Homo sapiens: one gene and its partners. The protein of the gene in region 3 purifies or fractionates together with the protein of the main gene of each other region. This does not show direct contact. Each region holds a gene or a part of one and is shown on either strand. Other genes may lie near its edges. The genes, in order: PPP2R5C, PPP2R5E, CCNG1 and ZZEF1.

Region 1 (7,888 bases), on a different chromosome or scaffold from region 3:
TTGAAGGATGCAAAGTATTGTGCCTGGGTATGTCTGTGAGGGTGTTGCCAAAGGAGATTAACATTTGAGTCAGTGGACTGGGAGACGCAGACCCATCCTTAACCTGGGTGGGCACCATCTAATCAGCTGCCGGTGCGGCCAGAATTAAGCAGGCAGAGGAACGTGGAAGGGCTAGACTGGCTGAGTCTTCTGGCCTCCATCTTTCTCCTGTGCTGGATGCTTCCTGCCCTTGAACATTGGACTCTAAATTCTTCAGCTTCTGGACTCTTGGACCTACACCAGTGGTTTGCCAGGGGCTCCTGGGCTTTCCGCCACAGACTGAAGGCTGCACTGTCCGTCTCCCTACTTTTGAGGTTTTGGGACTCGGCCTGCAGACAGCCTATTGTGGGTCTTCACCTTGTGATCGTGTGAGTCAACTCTCCTAATAAACTCCCCTTCATATATTCATCTATCCTATGCGTCCTGTCCTTCTAGAGAACCTTCACTAATACAGTTGGTCTGGATGGAACCAATTCATCCACATTTCCAGGAAACTTGACCTTTCAGTAGAAACAGGAACAATGGAGGGACCCAGGATGAGGCGCTGGGGAGCTTGGTGGCTCAGGAGGGAGCTGTGGGGAGAGGGGAGGAAGGCAGGGAGGATGAGCCCAGCAGCCCCCTGCACACAGTGCACAAGGGGGTCCACCTGCACATGACAAATAGGCTTTGAGAAACCCCCTCCACATGCTGAGTCCTGTCAGAGGAGACGATGGGGTAGGGGAGCATCGAGGGGGGAAATGAGCATCACCACACACAAGGACAACGCCATCCACACGTGACTTACCTATAAAATATATTATTTATCTGTTTTCTGATGTAAGCTCTCAAGCCTAGGAATTTCCCATAGATTCTGTGAAGGGTGGTTTTAAGAAAATCTCTCTCCCGAGGATCTTCACTGTCAAAGAGCTCTAAAAGCTTTGAGAAGAAAAAGACACTTAGTGGCTGGGTGTCATCATTCCATCAGGGCTTTCAGAGTGTCAGCTAATTTGTACCTTACCTGCAATACAAACTTCTGATCAATATATTTCTTCGCTATATTAGGTTGGAAATCTGGAGACTCTAAAAATCTTAAGAAAAATTCATAAACAAGCTAGGAGGAAAAAAAACAATGAGTCAAATAACATGAGATTTTATTGAATGGCGGTTAAAATATACCAGAAATTGAATCTTTATTGGTATGCAAATATTAGCCTCTCAAAGCCACATATCTACAGAATTAATGCTAAATTACATGGCTTAATTCAATGATAAATGGTGATGGTAATTATTTTATTTGGTGAAACCCACAGACTACACCCTTAAACGGCATTTAAACAAAATGATCTCCATGGCTGATGTCATCAGTTATAGTACACTGTTCAGGGACTACAGGGCACAGATGCCACAAACCAAGCCATGACCCAACTCTGCAGGGGGGATTTGCAGCCTGTCGCCTAGGAGTGTCCCACAATGCCAAGGCGCAGAGCCAACCAAATACACAGGAACTCTGGGGCTGCCAGGTAAGAGGGCCCTAAGATGTGGACCCAGAATCATGACCTCCTGGAGCTGGGACAATTCTTTCCCTGTGCAGACATGCTGGGTGGGACAGCGTGGGCCGCCTGTCACGGATGGATGGCCCTCCCACCCGCACACCTGGCCCCCGCTCTGCTCATGCCGACCCTGGCGCCTCCTTGCCAACCAACCTTCTGCCTTACAAATGCCCTGGGGAAAGGCAGTGGCCAGCGCAGGACCTGGGGGCCCAGCAGGCACCTATTAAATATGAGGAGCAAAAACTGGGAGATTGTTGGCTTAGGACCTCTGGGCCTGAATTCAATTCAACGGCCATCAACACAGCGGCCATCTTCACTGAGAACATACTCACAATTACACATCTTCACTGGCTGTTGTAAAGTGGTCAAACACACACATTAACTTTATTCTGCTGAAATATTTTTCTTGTACATATGGGTTTACGAGGCCCATGCTACTGAGGAGGAGAGGTCCATCTGGCCAGACCAGTGCGCCCGCTCTGTGGATCCCAGGCCATTCCCATGTGTCACCAGTGCCCTCCGAGTCTATCACCCAGAGCCCGATACCTGTAGATGAGGCCAGGCTGCTTCTAACGTTGGTTCATCTTCCTCCGGGTCAAATTCCGCTCCCGTAGGATTGGAGGAAGGTGGTAATGTTCGAAACATGTTAACTGCAAACTAAAATCCACATATTCTATAATTACAATCAGGGCATTTAAAATATTTACAGACAACATTTTATAAAGTCTTAGGTAATTCTAACAGTAGCCGCTTCCCATGGTAACTTAGCTCCTCCGTATCCTCAAAACGCAGAAGCTGTGTGGGTCCTCAGAGAGAGCCTGGATCAAAACTGCAGCAGGAAACATCACTTTGGACAGGTGCGCACGCAAGTTGACCACCAAAGTTACTTGGACTCTTGACTGTCAAACTTTGAATGACAACCAACACCAACAAAGGCTGATGGCACAGTGATGACTTCTGAGGTCTTATACTATCCAGTGGGTGCAAGACCAAGGAGAATGCTCAAAATGAGAGTAAGAAAGGGATGAGATGACGAAAGACGCAGCAGAGATTCACAGCTGAAAATGCTGGAAATGGCAAGGGCTGCGTCACGCAGGGAGGACCCGTGTGACAATGGCACCAACATCCTCTGCAATCCGCAACGATGAGGAAAGCAACAGTCAGAGTGGGACGACCTTTGAGTCGGCAGCTAAGATCATTTCCAGAGAAAGGACTGCTCAGGGGCACAGAGGATCGGTAGGGGCAGCATGGCTGTGCGCCCAGGCATGGGCTGTTAGATTTCTCTCAGTCTGTTTGGACTTGTATAACACATACTGACAGATCAGTGACATAAACAGAAAAGATTACTGTTTCCATGTCATACATTTATAACCTATTTTTATTTTGTACTAAATCTATGTATTTATTTATTTATTTTTGAGGTGACGTCTCCCTCTGCGGCCCAGGTTGGAGTGTAGTGGTGCGAACTCGACTCATCACAACCTCTGCCTCCCGGGTTCAAGTGATTCTTGTGCCTCAGCCTCCCGAGTAGCTAGAATTACAGGCGTGCACCACCATGCCTGGCTAATTTTTGTATTTTTAGTAGAGATGGGATTTCACCACGGTTTCACCATGTTGGCCAGGCCAGTCTCAAACTCCTGACCTCAAGTGATCCGCTCCCCTCAGCCTCCCAAAGTGCTGGGATTACAGGCGTGAGTCACCATGCCCAACCCTCTTTTATACTAAGTCTAAATATGATTGGTTACCTTATTGAATCTCTGAACGGATCGTATGCCAGTTATATAACTGGGTTCTGGTGAATGGCTCTTATAGGTGATCACAACCCCAGTCCCACCACTCTCAGAAGCACAAAATCAAAACCTTTGACATAAAAGATTAAAATCTGACTCTACGATAACAACGAGAAGATGTTTCTAGAGAGTCCAGGGCAAACTTGGCTGGCTTTAGATACCCAGTCTTGTAAAGACCAAGCTAATACTCAATGTCACCACTGCTGTTTCTTCCCTTTTCTTTTTTCCTCTTAAAGACAGGGCATCTCTCTGCTGCCCAGGCTGGAGTACAGTGGCCATCATCGCTCACTGCAGCCTCCAACTCCTGGGTTCACACGATCCTCCTGCCCCAGCCTCCCAAGTAGCTGGGACTACCAGCACGCACCACCATGCTCTGCTAATTTTATTTATTTTTTGCAGAGACAAGAACTCGCTACGTTGCCCATGCTGGTCTCAAACTCCTGGGCTTAAGCAATCCTCCTGCCTCGGCCTCCCAAAGTACTGGAATTAGAGGCGTGAGCCACCGCACCTGCCTGTTTCTTCCCTTCTTTACTGGTATTGATACTGAACTCCAAACCTTAATATCATTTTTCAGAAAGTCATCAGCTATAAAAGCTCTGAGCATCAAGCATCTGAGTATCAAGCATCTGAGCTTGTTCTCTGTGTCATCTGAGAGGGGAGCTGACGTAAAGACCAACTGTAATGGCCTTCACGGATACTGTAGAAACGCAGGGATGAAAAAAGGGGCTGAAAAGCCAGGAACAACTAATTAAAAAACACTTCTAGTAAAAGTATGAGTAATGTTCCTAAGACATAGGTACAAAGACAAAAGTTTGCAATCTAAAACCGAGAGTTAACCTGACTCTCACTGGTGTTATAATTTCTGGCAATGTCTACTCTCCAGGGACTGTCCCCTCCTCTGTGAAGCTAGTGTGTGTATAGGGCACTGCAAGGAGCCTCCCAAAGAACGGTGATTGACAGGTGGACGGCCCTGCCTCAGTTGCTGGCCCACAGGCACTCGGCGCAGACAGGGGTCTAGTCTGCCCCTCCTGGCACCCTGACCCCAAAGCCCACAGACGTGAACAAGCAGATGCTAAAAGCTCAACTATTAAGGAAAGGCCACACACACACACACTTTGGGCAGGCCGCCATGTCCTCCCAGGGTCCTGTCATTAGCAGCCACTGCTGAAGCTCTCCATAACTTCCAGGGCCATGAAGGGCAGAGAAAGGAAAGTCTGAATTGAGTCTTTAGCTCCTACGGGGAGTGTGGCATTCGTGAACTGGGGTTTCTACCCTCTCTCTCAAAGCCAAGAGACTGGGGTGAGGGTCCAGTCACCCACAGGACAGGGTCACCTTCAGGAAAGGGAGATGGCACTTTGTTCTTCGGTGGGTTAGAGCTGTGGGCCCGGCCTGGTGCCGACAGGGGCAGAGCACAGTGTGGGGAGGGCAGAGCCTGGGCACGAACTCTGGGTGGCAGAGGAATCTGTGAACAGGACTATGCCTGGCAGGAGACTCTGGGAACAGCCTGTGACATCAGGGCCTGAGGAACCATGGCGCCTGGAAGGAAAGCACGGTCACTGCTTCCGAGGTTTCTGGGGCTGCCCATCAGGGATACAGAGGCCAGAGCAGGAGCCGTAGGGCCACGCCGCCCAGGAAGCTGCCAAGGGAGAGAGGGGTCAGCTCACCCAGAGACGAGGCTGTAGGTCTTGGGGGAGAGGAAACAGCCGTCCCTCTGGAAGAGGCCTGCTGCCCAAGAGTCACAGACATGCCACAGAGGAAGAGACCACCATTCTGGCCGAGGCCACAGGGAGCAACTGAGCAGAACAGGCAGCTGCCCTTCCCCTCTGCTCTGGGTTCTGCTCAAAGCCCCGGGGGAGGGCGGGCAAGAGGGGCTCGGAGCCACCCTTGCTTCCCCTCCTCTCCCACAGCATGTCCCTCCCTGGCCAGGCTGCCTGGGGTGCGGCTTAGATGCCATTTGCAGAGGGTCTGAGATGAAAGCTTTAACCTAGATTGGATTTCTGTGACCAGGGATGACTAAGAAGTTAACCAACTTGCCTAAGATGTTATTTAGGCACAGGAAAGTGTGATTTCACCCATCGTGGTTAAAGGCGATAACTGAAAAAAAGTAAAATGTCCCCGACTGTGCCAGCTGGCCGTATGTGTCAACCCGGCTAGGCCACAGTGCCCAGCTGTCCAAACACTGCTGTGGGTGTTCCTGTGAAGGCATTTTATAGATGTGGTTAACACCTATAATCAATGGACTTCAAGTAGCGATCACTCTTGAGAATGTGGGGGCTTCAACCAGTCAGCTGAGAGGCCTGTGAGACCCAAACTGCAGCTTCTCTGAGGAGAGTCCACCTGCGGCCTGCAGTGTCCACCACGGCCAAGTCTCGTGCCCGCTGCCTGTCCACGGAGTCCAGACCTGCCCGCTGGACTCACCCACTGCAGAAGGCAAGTCCTTGAGATCTCAATCTCTGTCTCTCCTGCTGTTTCTCTGCACAGCCCTGACTGAGGCACCCAGTCAGCTGAGATTCCTAAGTAAACTGGTGGTTTCTACTAGCAGGAAAGCTAGTGATTAGGGTTTCCAGTTGAAGCTCTCCCGCACAGTGACAGTCAGCCCAGCAGCTAGGCCCCGTCTCAAACACCTGCACACTCACTGAATCCTTGATGCTGAGCTGAGGGCCTGCAAGGTGACTCAGATGGCTTGCTCTGAACACAATGTCCTCTTTTCAGTGTCTGTCATGGACTCAATGCTTGTGGCCTCCCTTCCTCACATTCATGTTAAAGACCTAAACCCTGGTGTGGCTGGATTTGGAGATGGGTCCTCAGAGAAAATAATGAAGGGTGAATGAAGTCATAAGTGGGGCCTTGGCCCTCCAGGATTAGTGTCTTTGTAAGGAGGGATGGTAGAAGGCTCACACTCGCCTTCTCTGCACTTGCTCGGAGCAAAGGCCATGGGAGGGCACAGTGGCCGTCTGCAAGCCAGAAAAGGCCCTCAGCAGGGAACAAACCCTGCTACACCCTTGAGTTTAGACTTTCCAGCCTCTAGAATGGAGAGAAGACACATTTCTGTGGTTTAAGCCACCAGCCTGTGGTATTTTCTTACGGCAGCCTGAGCAGACTGATACAGCGTCCTTGACTGATGACCGACCTAGGTCCGGGAAGGTTCATTCCAGGCCAATTCTGATTGATTGAAAGTCATTTCTCATGTGTAAGGAAAAAAACTTGCACTCCTAACTTCTACACACCTTTCTTACCACATTACATTGCATTAATTTAGTGCATATCTCTAGAAAAGGTTAAGTAAAAAGTAATACTGGGGCGGGGGGAAGGAACAGAGGGCCAACGGTCTATCACCTCAAATTCTTCTTGGGTTTCTGACCTAGCAACATTTCTTAACACAAAAGCTGCAGGGGCGAATCAGGGGCAGGAGCCCCAGGTACAGAAACCTGGGGTGCTGATGTCTGTGTGCAAATGTCACTGCCATGCTACCTGGATGCATGGATCCGGTCTGAGGAAACAGAGAAGACATCAACGTTATGCAGTGAACACCAAAGAAGCTCTGAGGTCTAAGGAGTCCCGGGTCTTCTGGGCAGCACACAGGGTCACTGTGATCTCTCAAATGAGACCTACGGATCCAGCGCACACCCAGAGGCACAGACGCAGAATCACGCTGCCCAACAAAGGCAGCACAGCCTCATGGAAACAGTCTCTCTACACCCTCTTCCCACCTAGAAGAAGGACCTCAGACCAAACAGCCTGCCTGAGCCTCAATTTTCTCCTCCATTGGAAAGGGTAAAGGCCAGGCGCGGTGACTCATGCCTGTAATCCCAGCACTTTGGGAGGCCGAGGCGGGTGGATCACTTGAGGTCAAGAGTTCAAGAGCAGCCTAGCCAACATGGTGAAACCCCATCTCCACTAAAAATACAAAACTTAGCTGGGTGTGGTGGTGGGTGCCTGTAATCCCAGCTACTCGGGAGGCTGAGGCAGGAGAATCACTTGAATCTGGGAGGTGGAAGTTGCAGTGAACCGAGATTGCACCACTGCACTCCAGCCTGGGCAATAGAGTGAGACTCCATCTCAAAAAAAAAAAAAAAAAAAAAAAAAAGCGTAAATCCTTTTTTTATTTTTTGCATTGGGCTGTGGTGAGAATCACAGAAAACACATGCAACAGCACTTACTAAATGGGAAAACATTATGCACGAACAGTTAGCATTACACAGCACTTCCCAAACGTTTCTGACTGTTTGACCTCCACATGAAAATAATGGCACGCACGTGAGTGCATACGTATGTCTGCATGTGATTCACACGGCCCCATCTGTGCCAGGACCGTCTCTGGTTAATATCAGGAAGCACCTGCTTCTGCTGCCTCCCTGACACTTCCACTTTCAGTACTTACATCAGTCCTGCAGATGTTCTCCAAATTGCTAAATTTATTAAATTAGATGTAAACTAGAATGGCCCAAGAAGCAACTTTACGGAAAATTCTTACAATTCAGCAATATCATGCAGCCTTTCTGTATGTGTTATCATTCATTACCAATGAGT
Region 2 (7,888 bases), on a different chromosome or scaffold from region 3:
CTGAAACCATTAACTTCTTGCCATCCTGAAGTAAAATTGTCCATTCAGTTATTCTCTGACAGTACCAACTAAATTTCTTCATTCCCTTGTCCTATTCCCACACCTATGGAGAAACCAATGTTTCCATCTGTCAGTACACCCTTCTATTGCTCATTTGACAAATTATTATTCTTGCTTTTAAAAACCCATTTTCTTTTTTTTTTTTTTCGAGACGGAGTCTCGCTCTGTCGCCCAGGCTGGAGTGCAGTGGTGTAATCTCGGCTCACTGCAAGCTCTGCCTCCTGGGTTCACGCCATTCTCCTGCCTCACCCTCCCGAGTAGCTGGGACTACAGGCACCCGCCACCACGCCCTGCTAATTTTTTGTAGTTTTAGTAGAGACGGGGTTTCACCATGTTAGCCAGGATGGTCTCGATCTCCTAACCTCGTGATCCGCCCGCCTCGGCCTCCCAAAGAGCTGGGATTCCTCTTGTTGCCCAGGCTGGAGTACAATGATGCAATCTCTGCTCATGGCAACCTCCCCTTCCCGGGTTCAAGTGATTCTCCTGCCTCAGCCTCCTGAGTAGCTGGGATTACAGGCATGTGCCTCCACGCCCGGCTAATTTTGTATTTTTTAGTAGAGATGGAGTTTCTCCATGTTGGTCAGGCTGGTCGCAAATTCCCAACCTCAGGTGATCCGCCTGCCTTGGCCTCCCAAAGTGCTGCGATTACAGGCGTGAGCCACTACGCCTGGCCCCCATTTTCTCATTAAGAAAGTACACTCATTATAAATAACTGTAATATGCCAGAATATCATAATCAACCTCAACCAGGAATAGATAAAATAATAGTTTTATCTATTCCTGGTCCCCTTAGTTAATTCTCATCTTTTTCAAGGGTTTAGTCTATTTAGTTTAGATAATAACCAGAAAATAGTTTTATTATTGAAGTTCACTAAATACAAACCAAATAATTTGAGTGGAAATAAGTTGTTCTTCAATATTCTCTCTCTTTTTTTTTTTTTTTTTTTTTTTTTTGAGACAGAGTCTCACTCCAATGTCCAAGCTGGAGTACAGTGGCATGATCTTAGCTCACTGCAACCTCCACCTCCCGGGTTCAACTGACCCTCCCAACTCAGTCTCCCTAGTAGCTGGGACCACAAGCGCATGCCACCGTGCCTGGCTAATTTTCATACTTTTAGTAGAGACAGGGTTTCACCATTCGGCCAGGATGGTCTCGAACTCCTGACCTCAGATGACCCGCCCGCCTCAGCCTCCCAAAGTGATGGGATTACAGGCGTGAGCTACCGTGCCCAGCCAAGTTCTTCAATATTCTTGATGAGATTCTACGGATTTAATCCTGGTTCAACTAGGATAATAATAATGTGCTTTCAGAGAAGATGTTATGCACAAAGCACCTTTAACGATGCAACACAGTATTAAAATGTACCCTTGGCCGTTTTTTTAAGTAACATCCTTTAAAGATTTTAAGTTTGGGGCAAGGAGGGTTATCATAAATTTATAATTTGCAACAATCGCTAATATACTGAATTAAAAGTTGTTTAGGGCTGGGCGCGGTGGCTTACGCCTGTAATCCCAGCACTTTGGGAGGCCGAGGCAGGTGGATCATGAGGTCAGGAGATCGAGACCATCCTGACTAGCACAGTGAAACCCTGTCTCTAGTAAAAATACAAAAAATTAGCCAGGCGTGGTGGCGGGTGCTTGTAGTCCCAGCTACTTAGGAGGCTGAGGCAGGAGAATGGCATGAACCTGGGAGGCGGAGCTTGCAGTGAGCTGAGATCGCGCCACTGCACTCCAGCCTGGGCAACAGAGCAAGACTCCATCTCAAAAAACAAAAAAAAAAAAGTTGTTTAAACTGTGAGTATGGAATAACATATCCCATAATTGATAATAATCCCAATATTCTGGGTAAAAAATCCCAGCCTCTTCTGAGATTCTCAGCTAAATACTCACCACATTCCATAATTAAGTTGGTTTTCATAAACCACATCCCTGGTAACTTAAAACAAAAAAATCATTGCAATGGTCCCTCTGCCATCAAACCTTTCCCCTCATTGCTCTTTTTATCAATAAAATGCAAGTTGACAGACTAAAAATGAGACAAAGCAAAGCACCAAGGGAACCAGAGAGGTTCAGCAAGACCCTGGGTATGAACACTCGCACACATCTCTGGGTCCTCTAAGGTCCATAGCTTTATGATATACAAAGCTGACATCTGCTTATGGATGATCAAAGCCAAACCACAGGCGCAACTACTAAGAGCTCTCTAGACTTCTATAATCTCCCCAAGTACATCTTTTGGAAAGTAGAATGCATTGGACAAGATTTTTACTAAGCCATAAGCATTTATTGCAAAGAGTTCCACTGGTTTGTTCTCCCATATGGTCTCAAACATTTCTGGTTAATACCAGACTATTAACCTTCATGTTCTTTTCACTGATCTTTAAATTGTAATAAATTTGTTGGGTTCTAGTAAGTCCTGGGCCCAAGAGCTAGATAAATGGTGCCTCATTCCCCCTGCTATTGGAGTGAAGTACAAGATCTGCCCAATTATACTTCAAGTAAGTTCAGAGTGGGAGTGAATCCCAGAGAGCAAACTACCTGATGGTCCCTTTAAGTGAACCTAAAATACCAGTTAAATGCTGGGCTCTTAACCCTGAGGCAGAAGTGAAATATTATTAAAGAAAGGAAAGAAAGCGGGCTTTATCAAAATGAGTGTCAGGAAGCTTTGTTACTCAGTGGCACAGTAATAAATAAATAAAGACACAGTTAATAAGTGTGCAAAAATGAATATATAAATACAGTCATGTGCCAAATAACAACATTTCGGTCAACACAGACCACATATACCACGGTGGTCCCATAAAATTTTAACAGGGTTGAAAAAGGCCTACTGCCTAGTGATTTGTGTTACAATTGGCTACGGTATTCACCACAGGTTTGTAGCCTGGGAAGAACAGGCAATACTACATAGTTCAGGTGTGTCATAGTAGGCTACACCATCTAGGTTTGTGTAATTACTGTATACTTATGATGTTCACACAATACAATTGCCTAAGGATGCATTTCTCAGAACATATACTGGTTGTTAAGTAATGCATGACTGTAAACAAAATTGTGCTGCTTAAGATTTGGGGTACAATTAGGCAACTTCAGCAAAGAGCAAGGAAAAAACTCAATAGCTTTATGCACAGCTGACAAAAAAGCTTTAAAAAGTTACCGCTGACGATCTGACTTGTATGTGGCTGTCAGCTCGTCAAACATGGTGCTGTTCATTTCCATAAATGCCTTCAACACATTGTACACCAACGCCACAATAGCCCTGGAAAGCACAGAAAAAAAGGAGTGTGTTAGTTAGTCTTATAAAATGGGATACTGAATGAAGAAAGCAAAAGCACAACTTTTGTCTGAATGATTTCTCGTACTGCACACTGTCTGTATCCTTTTTTAGTTGGAACAACTGAAAATGACCTACAGTTCATTTCCACATCAAGAGATTTCAAGGCAAGATAATTTTCTGAGGGGTGGTAGAACTAGAAAAAAAATCTAACTTTGCCCTTCTAATTTCTTTTTTTTTTTTTTTGCAACGGAGTTTCGCTCTTGTTGCCCAGGCTGGAGTGCAATGGCACCATCTTGGCTCACCGCAACCTCCGCCTCTTGGGTTCAAGCAATTCTCCTGCCTCAGTCTCCTGGGTAGCTGGGATTACAGAAGCGAGCCACCACACCTGGCTAATTTTGTATTTTTAGTAGAGACGAGGTTTCTCCATGTTGGTCAGGCTGGTCTCGAACTCCCAACCTCAGGTGATCTGCCTGCCTCGGCCTCCCAAAGTGCTGGGATTATAGGCGTGAGCCACCACACCTGGCCTGCCCTTCTAATTATTGGCACCCAGAATAGAGCTGCCTGTGGGCATTTGATAATTTCATTTAATAAAAAGGCAAGTATAATAGTAAAGCAATTTCACCCTAAAATAAGGATCTGTGATAGCACTAACCTTAGACATCTGAATTTGCATAGAATTCTATTTTCTAAATAACACATAATTCATCAAAATCAGAAGCTACTTCCCTAGAAACAAATGTTATATATATATGTGTATATATATAAATTATTCTTATCCAAAGAAATGAAATCAAGCCCTCATGTAGGTTGGGTGGTTCAATATGAATTATCTGTCTAGCTCTGATCTGCACCAGTCCTGCTGACCCAAAATATATGCTGATAACTGGCAAGCTGGGATGGTTGCTATTAGCTATGGGACACTATACAGCTAAACAGCCAAAATGGTAGCCCATACTTAACAAGAATTAGCTCTTGGGCAATGTGAGGACAAGGTTATGATGGGCTTGATAGCTTCAGACTAGAGTCTAAATAGCTTTTCCTTTTGCAAAAATATCCGTTGCTTCCGTTTTGCAACAAACATGCTCCTAATACCACTGAAAAATGCATTGGTAAAAATTAGCCATATATTAAATAAACCATGAGTCTGATGTTTCCAAAACATTTACAAGAAAGTACACTTGCTGTGTAGCTTCTGCCTTGTGCCATTAAAAGGAAAATTTAAGTTCTTTTCTGTTAAGGTTCCAGAATGACCTTCCTCCCAAGGGCAGTGATGGGAAAGCACCAAATGTAGTATACTGAGTAGTTACAGACACTTGCTAGAACCGTTCTCTAGGTCCTCAAGAGACTATCTGTATAAAGGGACTTAACTGTTTATCAGCTCCTTATTTTTACAAGTTCTATTAATATAATTAGGCAAATTTGAAAAATTAGAAATGTGATATTTTATAATTACATGCAAAATTTTTAAAGATAAACATATTATGAATATACTGAATTGTATCTCCCAATTTTTAAATACCACATTAAATTTTCCTTCTATTCCACAGAGAAAAATGTAAAGGCATTCAAATTCAGAATGCTTTAACTTTCATAGGGCTGGATGTTAAACTTCCCTTGATGATTTTAAACTCCTTCCTTTCCAAGAGATACATATAGCGACTGAGTTGGCTGTTAAATAGATCACACTAAAATGAAAACCTAGTCAGACCACTTCCCCACTTAACAACCCTTCAGTACTTCCTCATCATCTACTTGGTGAAGGCTCACACGAGTCCCACAGTCTTTTCTAGCCACATCCTCTAGCACCCTCCCCAAAAGACCTTGTGCCTCAGCCCTCCCAAACTCACAGGTCTCAGAAACTGACAGCTGCTTTTTACATCTTTGTGCCTTTTAACATGATGGATGGACCCACTGTCTGAAAGGGCTCTCCCCATGCCATCCACCTGCCAAATTCCTTTCAGATTCAGTCTAAGCATGGCCATGCTGTCAGTATCTACACACCTCTCCTCTCAGCTGCAGTGCCTCCCCAAAAGATCTGCTACCTTCATAGACAGATCAAGAAGCCTGTCTAGTAAACAGATACTTTAACCGGTATTTTGTTAAAGTATCTGTTTATTTTCTCCAGTCAGTGAATCCCCAGAAGGTAAGGATTTTATCTTTTCACATACGTCTTCAGCAACAAGGACAGCATCTGGCACATAATAAGGCTGAAGGGAAAGAAAGAGAGGAAGGGAGGAAGAGAACGGAGGAAAGAAACTGAAAACCTACGGATTCCAATGTTCTTTTGAAATCCTATAAAGGCTGGAAAACATGATGGGAAGGATGACGTTAGAGTTTTCTTCTATCAAACTCATGATGTATTCATTATTCCAATAATAGAGTGCTCTTTCTGCCACCTTTGGGAAAAGAAAAATAAAATGTTAAGAGAGAGAAAAAGACAAAGATAAAACAAAATTATAAATCTTTCCAAACAAAAGTATTTCAAAAGGCTATTTGTAAATCATTCAATTAGAGGTAAAATTAAATATTAATCACATTTTAATATATATATATTTTTTGAGATGGGAGTCTCGCTAGTGGCGCGATCTCGGCTCTCTGCAACCTCCGCCTCTCGGGTTCAAGCGATTCTCCTGCCTCAGCCTCCCGAGTAACTGGGATTACAGGCACATGCCACTATGCCTAGCTAATGTTTGTATTTTTAGTAGAGGCGGGGTTTCACCACATTGGCCAGGATGGTCTCGATCTCCTGACCTCGTGATCCGCCCACCTCAGCCTCCCAAAAGTGTTGGGATTACAGGCGTGAACCACCGTGCCTGGCCCACATTTTAAATGTTTGTGGATTTTTAATCTCTTGGAAAATTCCAAAGTGGGCCAGGCACGGTGGCTCACACCTGTAATCCCAGCACTTTGGGAGGCCAAGGCAGGCAGATCACTTGAGCCCAAGAGTCTGAGACCAGCCTGGGCAACATGGGGAGACCTCGCCTCTACAAAAACACAAAAATTAGCCGGGATTGGTGGCATGTGCCTATAGTCCCACCTACTTGGGAGGCTGAGGTGGGAGGACTGCTTGAGCCTGGGAGGCGGAGGTTGCAGTGAGTGGAGATCATGCCACTGAACTCCAGCTTGGGTGACAGAGCAAGACCGTGTCTTCTCCTCCCACCAAAAAAAAAGTCCAGAGTGGTTCAAGTGGTTCATCGACTCAGGGAAGGAAAAGAAGTTTTCCTGTTAATTTATATTCTTCTCTAATTCTGCCCATGTCATCTGATTCCACACTTTCCTGACATCACTTTAGCACATCTCACTGGTCCCCTTTCTTATGTTTTTCATCACACACACTTAGATCGAACCCAGGGCCCAGCATATGGTTAGCATTCAGTCACAGCTACTGAGGAACACCCACAGTTGCTCATCCCTGTAGAGCGGCCAATATTTACTAAGTACCTCCTATGGGCAGGCACTGTGCCTACACAGCAAGTAGAATGTATCATCCTTACCACCATCCCAGAAGGAGATACCATTGTGCTCATTTTACAGGTGAGGACACAGAGACTCAGGGAGACTGAGTAATGTAGGCAAGGTTACACTGACAATATGGTAAAGACTGGGGCCTCATTTCTAGGGCTTCTTCCAGAGTTTGTTTCTGGTCCCTTCCTGTGCAAGCCAGGAGATGTCTGCTCAGTTTCTGGTCTCAGGGACACTGGCTGCACCTACCCTCTCTGCTCTCTTAGATCCCTTTTCTCTGCCCACCATGCTATCAACTGGCTCTAATTTGGTCTGCTGGGCCTGATTGGCTCATCTTGGATTTCATGAATTCAAAAGAACATCTCAAAAACAAAACCTAAAATCTCTAAAAAGGGTAGTTACAGGGGAAAAGGGAAAAAGGGGTGGCTTCCTTCATTTATACAGATTAAGAAGCCCTGTTTTAGAAGAGAACAAAATGGTATAAGATGTATCTACCGAAAGACACTGAGAAAACAGAATTTTTCCATTTACATTATTCAGCTTGGTTCAAAAAACAAAACAAAACCCTGAGACTCATTAGGCACCAGACCCTGAGAGTACAAAGAAAACAATCATTACTGCATGTTCACTATATGCCAGGCACTGTGCTAAGTGTCCCACATATATAATATCTCATTTCCTCACAACCAACAGAGTTGGTACCATTACTTTTCTATTTTGTGGATGAAGAATCTGAGACTCAGAGAAGCCATTGGCTCAAGGTCACATGGCTAGTAAGTGGCAGATTCCAAAGTCTCTATTCTTAACCTCTTTACTCTGTTATCCCTAAAGAGTTCGCACACTGGTGGGAGAAGGGGCATCTACAAGCCTATCCAATGTAAACTGTGACAGATGCTATATCAGATATATGAATAAAGTGTCAGGGGAAGGAGGGGAAAAGAGCAGAATCAACAATCCAGATGACTTGGGAAACAGAAGGGTGGCAGAAATGTAACATAGGTGGGGCTGGGTGTGGTGGCTCATGCCTGTAATCTCAGCACTTTGGGAGGCCAAGGTGGGTGGATCATTTGAGGTCAGGAGTTCGAGACC
Region 3 (8,025 bases):
AGGGCTCCTCACTGCCCTCTACCAGCCATAGAACCTGAAAGCCACGAAGAGGCTCTGACCCTACCAACAGTACAGGCAGTGAAAAACAACCTTGGGATGTACTAATTATTAGAAAACTGAGGTTTGGGGAGAGAAAAGAGAAAAGGGTTGGCAAAATCAGAGAGGGGGATAAAAGAGTTAAAAGGCTAGAAAGATAAGGAAGGTAGTAACGTGAAACAAGGAAGGCCTTAAGTCCAATTCTCAACTCCGCCAAAACGTTTTGTGTACATGGGGTGTGTGTGTGTGTGTGTGTGTGTGTGTGTGTGTTTGGGTGTGTGTGTGTGTTTGCTTTTGGGGGAGGAAGGTTAGCAACCTAGGCAGAAACCTGGATAAGAAAGGAAATTGTTCTTGCCTTCCCATTCCTTCTCCTTCCAAAGCAGGAGACAACAGAGACACCTGCAGTGTTGGCTTCTGACTGGAGGACAATGACCCAGCTGATCCTTCTGACGTCTTACGTTCACAGAGAACAGCAGCCAACACATCCTGTGGCTCAAAAGCTGTAGCAGCATTTTTTATCTGGGATTACAAAATACAATGGTCTGGCACTTACAAAGTTCTCAAGAAATACTTGTTGATAGACAAACAAAGTAAACAGTCAACATGGGCAAAATGTTGATTATTGAAGCTGGGTAATGAGACTTAAATGTTCTGAAATAGAAACTTTTTAAAAAACTGCAGAAAAATCCAAATTCAAGTTTTGTGTGAAGTATATTTAGTAAATAGTAAACAGTTACTAAACATGAGATATATAAAATATCCCACATTTCTGAAGAGAATAAAAATATCAGAGTTGTCAAAGGCAGGTGTGTTTAAGTTCAGCACGATGACCTGGCACATGGGAAACATATAATAAATGCAAACCCTATATAGTACGTTTTTGGCTGGTCTTGGCTTTAAGCTTTGTACTCAACAGAGTCTAAAGCCATTAGAGAACAGAGGATCCCCCTCTAATGTGACCCAGTGCCTTTATATAGCAGTGGTTACTTGATGAGTCAAAAATTTAGTTTTTCATGAAATATATAGTAAAACCTCAATTAATTGGAAGGGGTTACTTTATCTGAGTATAGAAGTGGTAGCTAGAACCTCTGAGTAGAAGGATATTCATGGAATTGTTAATCTATGTTTTTTATGTATCCTTCTCTGTCTTTCTCCTCCCAACCATACTTAATTTCACTGGTGTCCCATAAACTAATAAAGAATTAAAGGAGCCACTGACAAGCAAGTTAACTTCAAATGAATAAGATAGACTAGATGCACTAGAGAACAGCTAGAGAAGTGGAGGAGGCTGTAATGCACAGTTACAGGAAGGATCAGAAAGCAGAAGGGAACTCAGCTGAGATCTTTTTGACCCTCACTTCCTTGGCCCTTATCATAGTTGGACAAGGCTACACACAAAAGTACCAGACATTTATTAGGGAGCCTGAAAAGAGGGTAAGGTGATTGGACATTGTGTGCAGGAGGGAAGGCACAGACTCCCACATCTCCAAGATGGAAACAAACAAAGCCAACCGGGAATTTCCCTGTGAGTCAGGGCAGTATTTGACACACCACCACTGTTTTATACCTGCTTGTTATAATCTTTGTTGTTGAAAGGCATGTCTACAGCCTACCATGCGGAGAATATGATTACATCTTCCCGTTACTGCCTGGATTCTTGCCCAGCCTCAAGGCCATTATTCTGACCATTAGTTCTTGTTGTACTTAACTGTTAATGGAGAAGAAGGTATGAGGATAGGAATTGAATACATCATTGAGCCTAGAATATACCCCCAGAAGTCAGTCATTTAACAAATTTTCAATAGGAATTCATGATTAAATCCACACTTCTTTAAAAATAAAATCATAGTTAACGAAGGGCTCATTATCTTTATTTTACAAGAGTGGATAACTGAGTATTACATTTCCACATTTTGCTAATTAGGTCTTTTCAATTATTTAAATGATGGTCTATATTCTAACATTTTGAAATGAAAATGGCAGAGGGGGTTAAGGGAGGAAGAAAAGTAAAGAATTTCAATTTGACTTGATTTATATTTAATTAATGTCTCTCCAGTACTAGTGAAATATTTTTATGTGAGAGATTTTAATAAAAAGTAAAAATATTCTAATGTACGAGAAAATACTGTATTATATAAACAATGATATATTACCTAAAAGCCCTCAAGTGAAAATTTCAAGTATAAAAACGTATAGAAATTAATACATGCAATTTAGATATTTTTATCTGTGTTAAATAAACAGTTCTAATACTCTGATTATCCTTCTAGGCTGAAAACAGAAGACTAGTCTGATAACAGAGAAAACACATCAAAGTGTGTTTAAGCAAGATATTTAAAAAGAAATAGTAATTTAATACTAAGGGCTACCATTTATCAAGAAATCTACTGTGATCTGGGAATAGTGACTACCTCTTTATGCACTTTCTATTATTTAATCCTCTTCATAACCCCATGAATAATGTATTTTTTACTTCTCATTGTTGAGAAAAGAAAATGTGATTAAATAACTTGCTGAAAGTCACATAACAAGTTATGAGCTATTCCTGGATATGAATATAAGTTTATTTTATTCTAAAGTCTATGTGTTTATATTGCCCACAGGTTACATGTTCTACAAGGACGGGTACCAGTCTAATTTGTTCTCCACTGGCCTATGCTATGTGTTCAATAAATATTAGTTAATTTATTCGTGCTTTTGATTGCTATAAAGAATTTTTTTTTTTTTAGACCAAGTCTTGCTCTGTTGCCCAGGCTGGAGTGCAGTGGCACCATCTCGGCTCACTGCAACCTCTACCTCCCAGGTTCAAGCGATTCTCCTGCCTCAGCCTCCCGAGTAGCTGGGATTACAGGCACGTGCCACCATGCCCAGCTAATTTTTGTATTTTCAGTAGAGACGGGGTTTCACCATGTTGGCCAGGTTGGTCTCAAACTCCTGACCTCAGGTAATCCACCCGCCTCTGCCTCCCAAAGTGCTGGGATTATAGGTGTGGGCCACCGCGCCCAGCCTGCCATAAAGATTTTATGATTTTTTAGCCATTTTTTTTAAAAATTGTGCATATACATTCCTAATTTTAGGAATTAGGAATAATAGGAACTAAAAGCCAAAAGGAGAAACTACATTTATAAACTCACACATTACAGCAAAAAGTATTTTTAAATAAAATCACTTGTTAAAGGTTATAAATTGCCAATTTATATTCACTAGGTAAGCTTTTATTTTCAAAAGGAACAAAGGCCTCTTCCCCATTTGAGCCCCAGTTTCTTAAACTGACCTGATTATGTGGCTAAGGTATTATTGTGAGGTATTGATGTTTTCTCCTGTTTTTCCTTCCCCTTCCTCCCCACCCCTTTTCCCCCTTTCCAGAGTTTTGTTCTGTGGCATTGCCTTGGGTAAGTACACGGCAGGGCAAATAGCAGAGTGACGGCAAATCTTTCAGATTTTCACTTTTTCAAAGTAAGAGAGACCGAACTGGGGCCATGAGAACAGAGACATCCAACTACTGTGTAATTCATAAGAGTTTAGAAATGACTCCTTGTGCACCCTTTTTCAGGCCCTTTTACAAATGGACTTTTCTCACTTGTGATGATCTGGGAGAGTGAGAGTGAGGAGAGTCTAAGAAGAGTTCAGGCTAATTATTTTCCCACTAATCTGGCATAGGAGAGGCTCACAGAGATTAAATTCATTATGGTAAATACAAAGAGTAATACTGCTTTACACTCGGGTCTGTAGACTGAGATTCACACTCACCACAATTATTCCTGTTAACAGTCTGCCACATACCTTTCATTTTAAGCAACTGAAAAATTGTACCAACTTTTCTCTTTAAATTTGCTTTAAAAGCAAATTCAGAAAATTGGTAGAGGGTCAAGAAATTACACAGTCCAACTCCATTATTTGATAAATTGTATAAAAAGCAAACTAAGGCAAGAATCAACTGACTTCCAAAGTTCACGAAGAGAGCACTCTGGAAGTTGATAAACCACCAAACCATATAAATTCCACCACCTCTTTATCTGTAATTAAAAATCAAAGGTTGACTTTTTTTTTTTTAACTACTCACTGTATTTTTAGAAAGATGGGGCAGAACCACTGTAGAACTCCTAAACCCCACAGAACAAACAGTACATTCTGGAATGATACGCCGGCCAATCCGGCTGGCAGCCGATTGACCTGACCCAGGCGAGGGTTGCTGCACCGAGTATTTAGTTTGGCCCCCTACTGAATGAAGACACTTTGTTAAATTCTCCAATGAGAGACGCTTAGAGGTAGGGGCGTGGAAGGGGGCCGGGGAATTTGAGGCCAGATAACGGGAAGTGTGAGCCGATTGGCCGGACTTCTCACTCCACGGCCCAGCCGTTTACGGATCGCGGAGGCCATCCATCAAAAGAATTACACCAATCAGCGGCGAAAATGCCCCCTTCTCGCGAGAAAGCCCCGCCCTCCAATATATTCCTCGTTAGGGCAGGCGCGGCCCCTTCGGCTCCGAGCTGACCCTGATCAGGGCCGAGTTGTCTCGGCGGCGCTGCCGAGGCCTCCACCCAGGACAGTCCCCCTCCCCGGGCCTCTCTCCTCTTGCCTACGAGTCCCCTCTCCTCGTAGGCCTCTCGGATCTGATATCGTGGGGTGAGGTGAGCAGGCCCGGGGAGGGTGGTTACCGCTGAGGAGCTGCAGTCTCTGTCAAGGTGAGTGGGACTGCGCGGGAGTTGACCGCCAGGTGCGGGTGGGGAGCTGGGTTGGGGGCGCGGGGCGAGGAGTAGGTCTGGCCCGCGCCCTTTTCCACACTAAACTCTACCGCTGTTGTGAGCACAAGCCCAGGCTAGTCCGAGGCTGGAGGGGCGGAGCCGGATCCGGCCTCCTGAGGTGCCTTTCGTGTCTGCCGACCCAGTCCCAGGGACTAGCCTGGGGAGGAAGAATGGAACCCCTGCAGTTAGAGGTTCCTCACATGACTAGCTCTGAAGACCTCCTGCCTTCCTGTCTTTAGTTGGTGTGGGAGGGACCTTCCATGTATCCAGGGCTTAGCTTGTGCCCGGGACATGGTTGTGTTATGCACACTTAAATCAATGGAATTCCCAGGTTCATCTTTCAGACTAGGTTAGCAACAACCCACCGCACCCCCCCGCCCCAATACGTGCTCCTAATGTCACCTTTTAAGTTTCCTTTCCTAACAACAATAAAAGTTAAGTAATATTGAGTATTGTGTGCCAAGCACTGTGCTATACTCTTTAAGTGGTGAATCATCTTGTTCAGTCTTCACATTCAGCGACAGATATTGTTACCCTCATTTTATAAATCTAGAAAGAAGCTCAAGCTCATTATTATTGTTCAGTGTTTTTTAAGCGTCTACTGTATGTGCTAAGCTCTTTACGTGATTTCATTTTAACTCACAAATCTGTGAGGTAGGTCATAAACCTTATCCCTACTTTATCAATGTGGAACTAAGTACAATTAAGTAACTTGAACAGTTCATTTTGTTAATATGTGGCAGAATACTTAACTACCATCTGCTTTTCACTTTCGGTATCCTGTCTTACGGTGTTTATTCGTGGTTATCTATTGACAGTGAATAACTTGAACAAGTATTTCTTGAAGATTTGCATTTTATTTTTCTAAAAAGCATGGTTCCGACCGGGCGCGGTGGCTCACGCCTGTAATCCCGGCACTTTGGAAGGCCGAGGCGGGCAGATCACAAGGCCAGGAGACCGAGACCATCCTGGCCAACATGGTGAAACCCCGTCTCTACTAAAAATATAAAAATTAGCTGGGCGCGGTGGCGCATGCCTGTAATCCCAGCTCCTCGGGAGGCTGAGGCAGGAGAATCGCTTGAACCAGGGAGTCGGAGGTTGCAGTGAGCCAAGATCGTGCCACTGTACTCCAGCCTGGCAACAGAGCGAGACTCCTTCTCAAAAAAAAAAAAAAAAAGCATGGTTCCTTCCCTCTAGGAACTCAATTTAGGATGTGACCAACTTGTAGAAGGGAAATAAATAACAGATGGCACTTTGCAATGACTTAGATGCACTAGCCGCATTGGGGGATGGGAGGCTTATAAATCATTTCTTGGCCCAGTGCAAAGATGGCCAAGGAAAGCAGGAAGGACTACTCTTACACTCCTTGCTGGTCTTTTTTTCTATATATAGATGATAGAGGTACTGACAACAACTGACTCTCAGAAACTGCTACACCAGCTGAATGCCCTGTTGGAACAGGAGTCTAGATGTCAGCCAAAGGTCTGTGGTTTGAGACTAATTGAGTCTGCACACGATAATGGCCTCAGAATGACTGCAAGACTAAGGGACTTTGAAGTAAAAGATCTTCTTAGTCTAACTCAGTTCTTTGGCTTTGACACAGAGACATTTTCTCTAGCTGTGAATTTACTGGACAGATTCCTGTCTAAAATGAAGGTATGTTTGAAGCTACATTTTTGTAATTTTGCTCAGTGTGTTTTGGAGATGGAATTGTTACCTTTTGGCTGGTATTCATAAACTTGACCTTTTTTTTTTCAGCACGTAGCCAAAACATTAATTTTGTCTACTACAGCATTAATATTTCTTATCATAATCAAGAGTAGTACATCAGGTATTAGACTTAAATTCTGAAATGAAAAATAGTCTAATATCAAGTAACAAATTGCAGTTTCCTAGTAAGAAAATTGGCTGTTTTTAAAAAACCCTTCTTGATAGGTTGGATTTGTCCATTTATTTACTATTTTTAGATATAAACAAATTTATTAGTGGCAGAAATTTATTAGAGGCTACATTGTGGCTAAGAATTAAGATATATTTGTTAATCACTACCCATATATAAAATTGTAAATGTTTTAGCCTTAGACCTAGTCAAGACTTGCTTATGCTTGGCATTTCCAGCTTCAGTGTACATGCAGTAGGGAGGAGAGTGTGTCTGAAGGAGGAGCAACTATTTTCCTATACTAGATAAACAAGACTGTCACTTTCAGAGCTTAACTGTTACAAATGCATCTGCCTTTCCTGTACACCCATGGTCACTGGAGGAAAATAAGATGATGTGACAATTGGAAGGAAACTCATATTTTAGTCCTCGGTATCTAACACAGTGCATCATAAAAAAGGACTTCAATATTTGTTGAAGATTCAAGAAATTTGCTTCAACAGACTAATTAAGCTCTTTAGACATTTCACATGTAGTCATTACCTTTGAATCTGTAAATGTTGCACAAATGAATAATATACAGCTATTCCTCAGGTATAATTCAGTCTTATGTGAGAATAAGATCGTTGCTCTTATGTACAAGTCATAATAAGAAAAATAACTACATTATGCCTTTAAAGAGGCATAAGTGTACTGCTGAAGAGTTTACAAGAAGAGAGAGAGCACAGAGATATTAATACTGGTAAAAGCTTAGTTTCATGTGAGCTGGAAGTAAACTGGATAAAGTTTTGACTGTGTCTCATACGGCAGACATTCAGAAAATTAAATGATAAAGATTAGTAGTGGATAGAACTCTTAGAGGCAGAGTAAACAGTATATGCCATAGTATTTTAAAACTGTTTTATATGTGTTCCCACAAAGACAAGAGCCTGGAAAAAATACAACATCCTGCAAAGAAATGGCTTATTTTGTAAATAAGCCATAAAGTATTTCAGTCCTCATATATCTTTGACTAGTTAACTTATTTGATCAAACTAGAACAATGTTTACTTATAGTTCTACAGTGATTAATAAAAACACACTTTTTCTATGCTGAGCCAAACATTATACTGAAACTCAGTCCAGTTACTCAAAAATTGGTTCTAAGTGGGGTCCATAGTGTTGACAGGCTATAGTTTAGGTATGAGTGGATTGTGTTAAGTCCATCACAGCTGAGAAATAAACCTCAAATATACATTTTCAAAATGTTGGGTCGGAGTTCTAGATTATCCTTTATGTTTTAATTGAAATAAGGTAGAGTCATGGGCTTACTGGTTTTGTTTTTGATTTTTTAGGTACAGCCCAAGCACCTTGGGTGTGTTGGAC
Region 4 (7,888 bases), on a different chromosome or scaffold from region 3:
TTTTTGGTATTAGTGCTTCACTGAGCATATTATGAAAATAACTTTGTATATTTTACATTATTCGTAACAGATGAGTTGCTGGGTGAAAGCATATGAGCATTTCCCTGGCTCTTTACATTTTGCCAAAAGAAGTTCTAAAAAGGACGATAGCAGTTGATACCATCTGTGGGGAAGTGAATAAACACAAAGGTTCCCATAGTGTTCAGTTAGTATTTCTTCGGTCACAAAGTGTAATTAAACATACATTCGTGTTTCTTTTCTAATTTCACATTCTTCAGGTAGATTCTGATGTCTTAAAAAGTTAGGCCCAATATTTTCATGATTAAAGGACTGTACCATCTTCCCGCCCACTGAGTGCTCACATTCAGCTGGATTTTCTTTCTGTGTAGATTTTGTCCATCATGCTGTACTCCTCAAAAAAGGAGATCAACGCTTTGGCTGAGCACGGAGACCTAGAGCTGGATGAGCGAGGGGACCGAGAGGAAGAGGTGGAACGGCCAGTCAGCAGCCCTGGCGACCCAGAGCAGAAAAAGCTGGACCCCCTTGAGGGCCTGGATGAGCCCACCAGAATATGTTTCTTGGTGTGTTCTTGAGTCATCTTGTGGCTTAGGAGGGGCTTCTGAGGGATGGCTTCTCTTTGGCCCGGGCCATGTTTTAGCCTAAACATGAAAATGCTTCTGTCTGCTGTCCTGAGAATTCACTTCCTAAAGACTCAGTCTTATGTTGTGCAGAATTGATCCAGAAGAACAGAAAAGCCCCACAACAATAGTTCTTAATATTTTGGGTTATAAACTCAAAAGCTTTAGGTCCTCTCTCCCCATAAAATACACATTCAAACATGTATGTAAAATTTTGCACGAATTTCAAGGGCTTACTAAAGCCCTAAGGCTCGTCCATGAACTCTATACGATAGTTCCTTCCTCATAGTTTCTCAGAAATACACTCTTACCTTTACTAGGTAATCTATTCTTCCTCAGAACAATATGAAAAGGATGAGGGCTTGGACTTCAGAAGTTGTGACTAAATGAAGAGTAAACAGAATGTAGCGTAGAATGTCAGAAAAAGCAAATCCCAGCCAGGCACAGTGGCTCACACTAGTAATCCCAGCACTTTGGGAGGCTGAGGCAGGAGGATCACTTGAGGCCAGGAGTTCAAGACCACCCTGGGTAACTTAGCAAGACCCTGCCTCTACAAAAAATAAGACTAGCCAGGTGTGGCATGCGCCTGTAGTCCTGGCTACCCAGGAGGCTGAGGCAGGAGGATCACTTGAGGCCAGGAGTTCAAGTTTACAGATTTTGCAGGAGAGTTTGCATCCCCTGGCACAGAGCATACATGCAATTCTGTATCCATGAATAAGTAAAAGCTATGAATCCAGTTGGCAAAATACAGAAAATGATGATGTCATTGATACTAACAGAAAAACTACTTTGATCAACATTGCTGACAAGTTTAAGTGCAGGTTAAAACTCCTCTTGCCTTTCTACGCTTTTGGGTACTCAGTGGTATGAGCTATGATCACACCACTGCACTCCAGCCTGGGCAACCAAGTGAGACCCTGTGTCAAAAAAAATCAAAAGAAAATACAGTGCCTATGTATGCGCTAGTTGTCAAACTTGAGTGTAAAACAGTTATAGAGACGCTAGCCGTGAATACGATGTGGTAAGTATCTACTGTCAGCATTGTATTTTGTTGACAGGATATTTCTTTGGGGTTTTAGTGTTTTATAATTTCCTTTGAAGTTACAGTCGTAGTGTAGGTGTTATAGTCCATGTTTTGGTGCTTACAATTTTATATGCTTTTTAAACTACCCATATAATGTTCCTCAATTATAACCTGTGGCAGCTTTTGCTATATTGTCTTCTCAGTTTTGAGTTCAGTTGATCAATACCGTATTGAAGCACTGTTAATGGTTCTTGTCTGCGTCCTCCCCTGGCCTCCAGATGGCTCATGATGCCCTCAATGCCCCTCTGCACATTCTCCGGGCCATATACGAACTGCAGATGAAAAAGACCGATTATTTCTTCCTGGAGGTTCAGAAGAGGTAAGGGACATTTCCGTGCAGCTGAAGTGTGGCCAGGGAGAGAATATGTGAGGGCGGGAGGGTGTGCGCCTCCTGGCAGCAGCTTCTGGATCGATCGACGCTCCGACAGGCCGGGAAGCAGTTGCTAGTCCTTTGTAAGGCGAGGTGGGAGGTGGCCTGTGCTACGTTACCTGGATCATCTTCAAAGTGCACTGTGGTTCCTCTTTAAAACTTATGTTTGTAGTCGGCCTCTGAGAGGAAACTCATTTTACAGACACAGAAATTGGGCAGGCACCAAGATGTCTCTCATGTGTAATCCCAGGGAGCAGACAGCACAGAGCAGGAACTTCTGCTCAAGATATTTTTAAAATTAAGAACATTCCCTTTCTCTTGGCCAGGAAGTTCAGAGCTAGTTTTTGGGCCCAACTTTTTAATTTGCGTAGAACTTTACATATCTGCAATCCAGTCTCCTCCATCCCCCGTATCCTAATTTTGACTTCTTACTCATTGTAAATTCTCATTTAATTTTTCTTTTATTTTGTGTTTCGTGTTTCTCTTTTATTAGTTTCTTATATATTGCCTAAAAGCCTTTATGAGGTGAAGCAGGGTTGCATTAGTTAGGGTACAGTCTAAGCTGCGGTAACTAAGAAACCAGAAATATAATGGATCAGGGCAGATAGAATTTGTTTTTCTCTCACATAACAGTCCAGAGGTAGGCAGAGTCTGGGGTGGGTGACAGCTCTGCTCCACAGAGGGACCCAGCAATCCCAGCGTTCTCATTTGTGGAGTGAAAGCTCCCTCGGCCACCCCACCTCTCGGTTCTAGCCCAGAGGAAAGAGGGGAGGTGGAGAAGGGAGTGCACCATTAGTCCAGTAGACTCCAGAGGTGGCACACCACCTCGCTCACCTGCACTGCCCAGAACCCAGGGGCATCAGCACATCTAGCTGCTAACCATGTCTCTAGCTGGGTGACTGTGGCTCTTGCTAAAACTCAGGGAGCTTTAGAGAGAGAGAAGGGCCACCGAGTTTCGGCCAGAGTCGTCCACCTGTTCAGACTGCGTTCAAATAAGGCAAACACCAGGCTGTAACCATTCCAGCTGTTTCTGTACCTCACTTCTGTTTTCTGTGTGTCAGTTTCCTTTTTCTGTTCGTAAACCTCCAACCACAGCAGTGGAGTCACTCTGAACCCATTCTGATTCAGGAGCTGCCCAATTCGGGGATCACTCTTTGCTCATTTAAACTCTGTTAAATTTAAAAAAAAAAGGAGAGAAGGGGAGTCCAGGCATGGTGGTATGAGCCTGTAATCGCAGCTACTAGGGAGGCTGAGGCAGGCAGGAGGATCGCTTGAGCCCAGGAGTTCCAGGCCGGCCCGGGCAACATAGCTCCAACACGTCATCTCTAAAAAAAACAAATAAATTTTTTTTAAAAATGTTTTTTTAATGAAAATAAAACATTTAAATTAATTTTAAAAATGGAAAAGATAGAAAAGGAGAATGGATTTTGCAGGAGAGTTTGCATCTCCTGCCACAGAGCATACATGCATTCTGTATCCATGCATAAGTGAAGGCTGTGAATCCAGTTGGCAAAACACGGAATATGATAATGTCATTGATACTAACAGAAGAACAACTCTGAAGAACATTGCCAACAAGTTTAAGTGCAGGTTAAAACTGGCCTGTCTACACTGTTGGTACTCAACTTTGTGCTGCCCTTCTGCAGGTTTGATGGTGATGAGCTCACCACAGATGAAAGGATACGGTCCCTGGCTCAGCGGTGGCAGCCCAGTAAGAGTCTGAGGCTGGAAGAACAGAGCGCCAAAGCTGTGGATACAGACATGATTATCCTGCCATGCTTGGTATGTCACCCGACCTCGGACCCAAAGTATCTGCACCCCATCCCCCACCCCATACCACCACTGTAAGAAGGCTAGACCTCTGTAATGGTGGTCTTGGGTTTGCAGTCCCGGCCTGCACGCTGTGACCAAGCCACTGCTGAATCGAACCCTGTGACCCAGAAGCTGATCTCCAGCACAGAGAGCGAACTGCAGCAGAGCTATGCCAAGCAGCGCCGTAGCAAGAGCGCCGCCCTCCTGCACAAGGAGCTGAACTGCAAGAGTAAGAGGGCTGTCCGGGACTACCTCTTCCGAGTGAACGAGGCCACAGCTGTCCTGTACGCCCGCCACGTGCTTGCATCCCTGCTCGCCGAGTGGCCTAGCCACGTGCCAGTGAGCGAGGACATCCTGGAGCTCAGTGGCCCTGCCCATATGACCTACATTTTGGATATGTTCATGCAGCTGGAAGAAAAGCATGAGTGGGAGAAGGTAGTTATGCAGACTGAGCTTGTGCTCACCCACCAGGTTCTTCCTCTGCCCCACAGGCTTCCTCCAGTGAGTGCTTCCTGGAGCGAGGCTACCTGTGTGGCTGTGCAGCTCCCTGACAGGTGTGAATGCAGCAAAGGTAGGGTCACTGTATCCTCTCCCAAGGATTGGGCTAGTGAGGAACTCAGGGGCCCTGAGCGCGATTTCCAGCTGAACCAGAAAGCTTTGTCGCCATCTTCCCAGTTTCCAAGTGCAGAAATCTTGAGGCACATTCGGTAGCTCCTTTTTGATCCTGTCCCTCACCCACCTTCACACACACACACGCAGTCCATGAGGAAGTTCATTTGGCCTCTCAGCCTTGCTTTGTCCATCTGAGAACACCACCAGACCTCGAGGTCTTTTCCCGGCCTTGCAGCCCTGCAGGTGCTGGCAGGCTTGCTCTAGCATATCTATCTTTCGGAAGGGACAGAGGGAGCCACCCTGCCTCTACTAGGCCCTTGCATAGGCGTGTCCTCCCACAGTTCTTGCCACCTAGAGCTCCCAACCCTGCACCTCACTCCAGGCATCGATTACATTGTGTGGTCATTATTTATCCATAGGCCAATCCACCTGCTTGGCTGGGGACTCCTTCAAGGACCAGGACCCTTTATGATTGGTTCAGTTAGTTCTTTCAGACCACCTCTAAGTAGCATCATTCTGAAAGGACTGCAGTGTCCTGATTGACACCAAGAGCCTGGTCAAGTGAGAGGTGGCTGGTGGAGTTGGTTTTGGGTGGTGGAGTCACAGAGGCTCGTCCTAGGTCTAAGATGATGCCAGCACCTTTGGGTGGAGCTTGGGTTGAAGTAAACTGTCCCTTCTTCCTGATGCCACTTGCAGGCCCTGACCTTATCTGTCTGCTTCCCACCAGATCCTGCAGAAAGTGCTCCAGGGCTGCCGAGAGGACATGCTGGGGACCATGGCCCTGGCTGCATGCCAGTTCATGGAGGAGCCAGGAATGGAGGTGCAAGTGAGGGAGTCGAAACACCCGTATAACAACAACACCAACTTCGAGGTAAGCCTGGGGCCGGCAGGCCCCATAAGAGCGACTGAGCCGCAGAGACCTCGTCAGCCCCTCCGTGCTCAGCCCCTCCATGCTCAGCCCCTCTGTGGCTCTCTCCCGCTGGACAGCAGAGACCTGTCCAGGAAAGTGCTTCCTTGAACAAACTGCAGTCTGCCTCCCTGAGGCCAGGGATTCTGTACAAGCAAGTCTTCTCTTCTCCGGACTTTTCTTGTTTTAATAGAAGAAAATGGGCCACCTAGCCCTGGAGGAGAGCTTTACTTTCCCTGCGGCAGGCTCCTCAGAGTGAGTCCTTGGCTTCACAGTGAGACAGTGAGTCTGAATGTGGTCCAGGTTGGACCCTCACTCTTCAGCTGCCACCTCATGACCTGCCCCCACCGTGGATACTACAGCCCCTTTTTAAAATTTCCCAGAACTGAATCAGAGTCTCATCTTTTCCATCCTTAACTTTGTGCCTGGGCAGGGAGGTAGGCATTTTGATGAGGCAGGAATGGGGCAGCCTCCGTTATTCTCATTGACTTAAGGCCATGTAGTCCCTTTAGCACTTTTTTTTGAGACGGAGTCTCACTCTGTCGCCCAGGCTGCAGTGCAGTGGTGTGATCTCGGCTCACTGCAACCTCCACCTCCCGAATTCAAGTGATTCTCATGCCTCAGCCTCCCTAGTAGCAGGAATAAAGGCACCTGCCACCATGCCCAGCTAATTTTTGTATTTTTAGTAGAGACGGGGTTTCACCATATTGGCCAGGCTGGTCTCTAACTCCTGACCTCAGGTGATCCACCCGCCTTGGCCTCCCAGAGTGCTGGGATTACAGGCGTGAGCCACCTCACCTGGCCCCCATTAGCGCTTTTAAAAATGTTGGAGAGAAAACTGAAATGTTGGAGTTGCCCAGGCATCTACTTCTGAGTGGAAGGCACCTGCAGCAGCGAAGGTGGATGATGAAAACCGATTTAGAACTGGGTTATTGGCCAGCTGAGATTTTGTTTTTCAGAAGTATAACCTGTCTTTCTTCCAAGTCTCTTCTCTTGTCATGTTCCTGGGCTCCAGCCCCACTCCCTTGGTCCCATACAGGCACATGTGGTCAGCCACCAGGTTCGATCCCAAAGAGGTCTTGTCTTCTCCACTGACCCTGGACACCCGTTGCCCTTCTCTGGGGTTCCTTTTGCTGCTACTTTCTGATTTCCTCACTTTTGCCTCAGCCCAGCCTTGCTCCACACCAGCTGTCAGTGATGCTACACTGTGCAAGCCTCACCAAAGCTTTCCAGGGTTTTCCCTGTTGTCCAGAGTCTGAGTGCCTCATTTTCATGCCCAGGGCCTTCAGTGTCTGCCCCTGCCAGTCTCTCTGGAGTCAGGTCTTGTCCCTGTTCCTGCTTCCCAAGCATACGTGCCCATGTAGCACACCCTTTACTCCAAACACGCCAAGCTCCTTGCCATTCCCTGAACATGCTAGACCTTCACAGGGCTGTTACCCTGTCTGAAATGCACCCCATGCACTCAGGTCCACCTTGTCTCCCACTCCCGCCTTCTCCTAACAGGGTCCTCCTGTCCTCTTCACTCTTCACAGCAGCCTGACACTCTTTCTCTGGGGCCCCGTGTTGCCTGCCCCGCTGTGCCTCCCTCGCACCATATTTGCAGTCTGTGCATGCTCCTCGCCCTAGCTGGACTCTGCACTCCTGGAGGCCAGGGCTGTGGTTCACTCATTCTCACACACCCGGGTCCAGCCACAGGACTCGGCATGGGACAGCTGCAGTCAGTGTCTAGTGAGCAGCATCGACAGATGTGTTCTCCATTTCCCCTCCCTAGGATAAAGTTCACATTCCTGGTGCCATCTACCTCTCAATCAAATTCGACTCTCAGTGCAACACAGAGGAGGGCTGTGACGAGTTAGCCATGTCCAGCAGCAGTGACTTCCAGCAAGACCGACACAGCTTCAGCGGGTCTCAGCAGAAGTGGAAAGATTTTGAACTTCCAGGTAGTGAAACAAATACTCGATTAGATAGGTTCTTCACAGGCAGTGTTTAAACTTAATATTGAGAAGGGAACTTACTGGAGAATGTTGAAACCCAACACCACTGCTGCCATTCCCTGTTGCTTCAGTTCCTGATGGGCCTCTGATCCTTGTGTGCCTAGGAGACACTCTGTATTACCGCTTCACCTCCGACATGAGCAACACCGAGTGGGGCTACAGATTCACCGTGACGGCCGGACACCTGGGGCGGTTCCAGACAGGTGTGTGCTCTGGGCTTTGCGTTCACACCATCTGCCTGCCAGGGACACTCCATGGCTGTGGGTGCCATGATGTCACTGATCTTGGTTAAAATCAAAGCAGGTACTTGTCTCTCACACTTTCCAAATTTGTCTCACAAGCCCCACACCTGTCACTCCTGAATGTGATTTCATTGGCTAGTTGTAAACTTGAATGGCCAGCTATGAGAAGCATTCTGTCAGGACCCGAAAAAGATGCTTATTCTCTTAGAATTTGCCAGGGCATTTTGAA

Evidence for each region.
Region 1: the proteins of CCNG1 (region 3) and PPP2R5C purify together in Homo sapiens (affinity purification with mass spectrometry; 4 studies listed by BioGRID and IntAct, with this or other methods). This does not show direct contact.
Region 2: the proteins of CCNG1 (region 3) and PPP2R5E purify together in Homo sapiens (affinity purification with mass spectrometry; 3 studies listed by BioGRID and IntAct, with this or other methods). This does not show direct contact.
Region 4: the proteins of CCNG1 (region 3) and ZZEF1 purify together in Homo sapiens (affinity purification with mass spectrometry; 3 studies listed by BioGRID and IntAct, with this or other methods). This does not show direct contact.

The regions. Positions count from the first base shown.
Region 1 is NC_000014.9:101,876,498-101,884,385, reverse strand, and holds part of PPP2R5C (serine/threonine-protein phosphatase 2A 56 kDa regulatory subunit gamma isoform), read right to left. Parts: intron 2,226-7,888; coding exon 2,115-2,225; intron 1,130-2,114; coding exon 1,037-1,129; intron 955-1,036; coding exon 824-954; intron 1-823.
Region 2 is NC_000014.9:63,378,839-63,386,726, forward strand, and holds part of PPP2R5E (serine/threonine-protein phosphatase 2A 56 kDa regulatory subunit epsilon isoform), read right to left. Parts: intron 5,734-7,888; coding exon 5,606-5,733; intron 3,320-5,605; coding exon 3,218-3,319; intron 1-3,217. UniProt on the Homo sapiens protein: The B regulatory subunit might modulate substrate selectivity and catalytic activity, and might also direct the localization of the catalytic enzyme to a particular subcellular compartment.
Region 3 is NC_000005.10:163,433,084-163,441,108, forward strand, and holds the start of CCNG1 (cyclin-G1), read left to right. Parts: upstream 1-4,511; 5' UTR 4,512-4,721; intron 4,722-6,173; coding exon 6,174-6,437; intron 6,438-7,994; coding exon 7,995-8,025. UniProt on the Homo sapiens protein: May play a role in growth regulation. Is associated with G2/M phase arrest in response to DNA damage. May be an intermediate by which p53 mediates its role as an inhibitor of cellular proliferation.
Region 4 is NC_000017.11:4,013,822-4,021,709, reverse strand, and holds part of ZZEF1 (zinc finger ZZ-type and EF-hand domain-containing protein 1), read left to right. Parts: intron 1-389; coding exon 390-581; intron 582-1,940; coding exon 1,941-2,041; intron 2,042-3,738; coding exon 3,739-3,874; intron 3,875-3,979; coding exon 3,980-4,339; intron 4,340-4,935; exon of another isoform or gene 4,936-5,077; intron 5,078-5,243; coding exon 5,244-5,387; intron 5,388-7,194; coding exon 7,195-7,363; intron 7,364-7,521; coding exon 7,522-7,620; intron 7,621-7,888. UniProt on the Homo sapiens protein: Histone H3 reader which may act as a transcriptional coactivator for KLF6 and KLF9 transcription factors.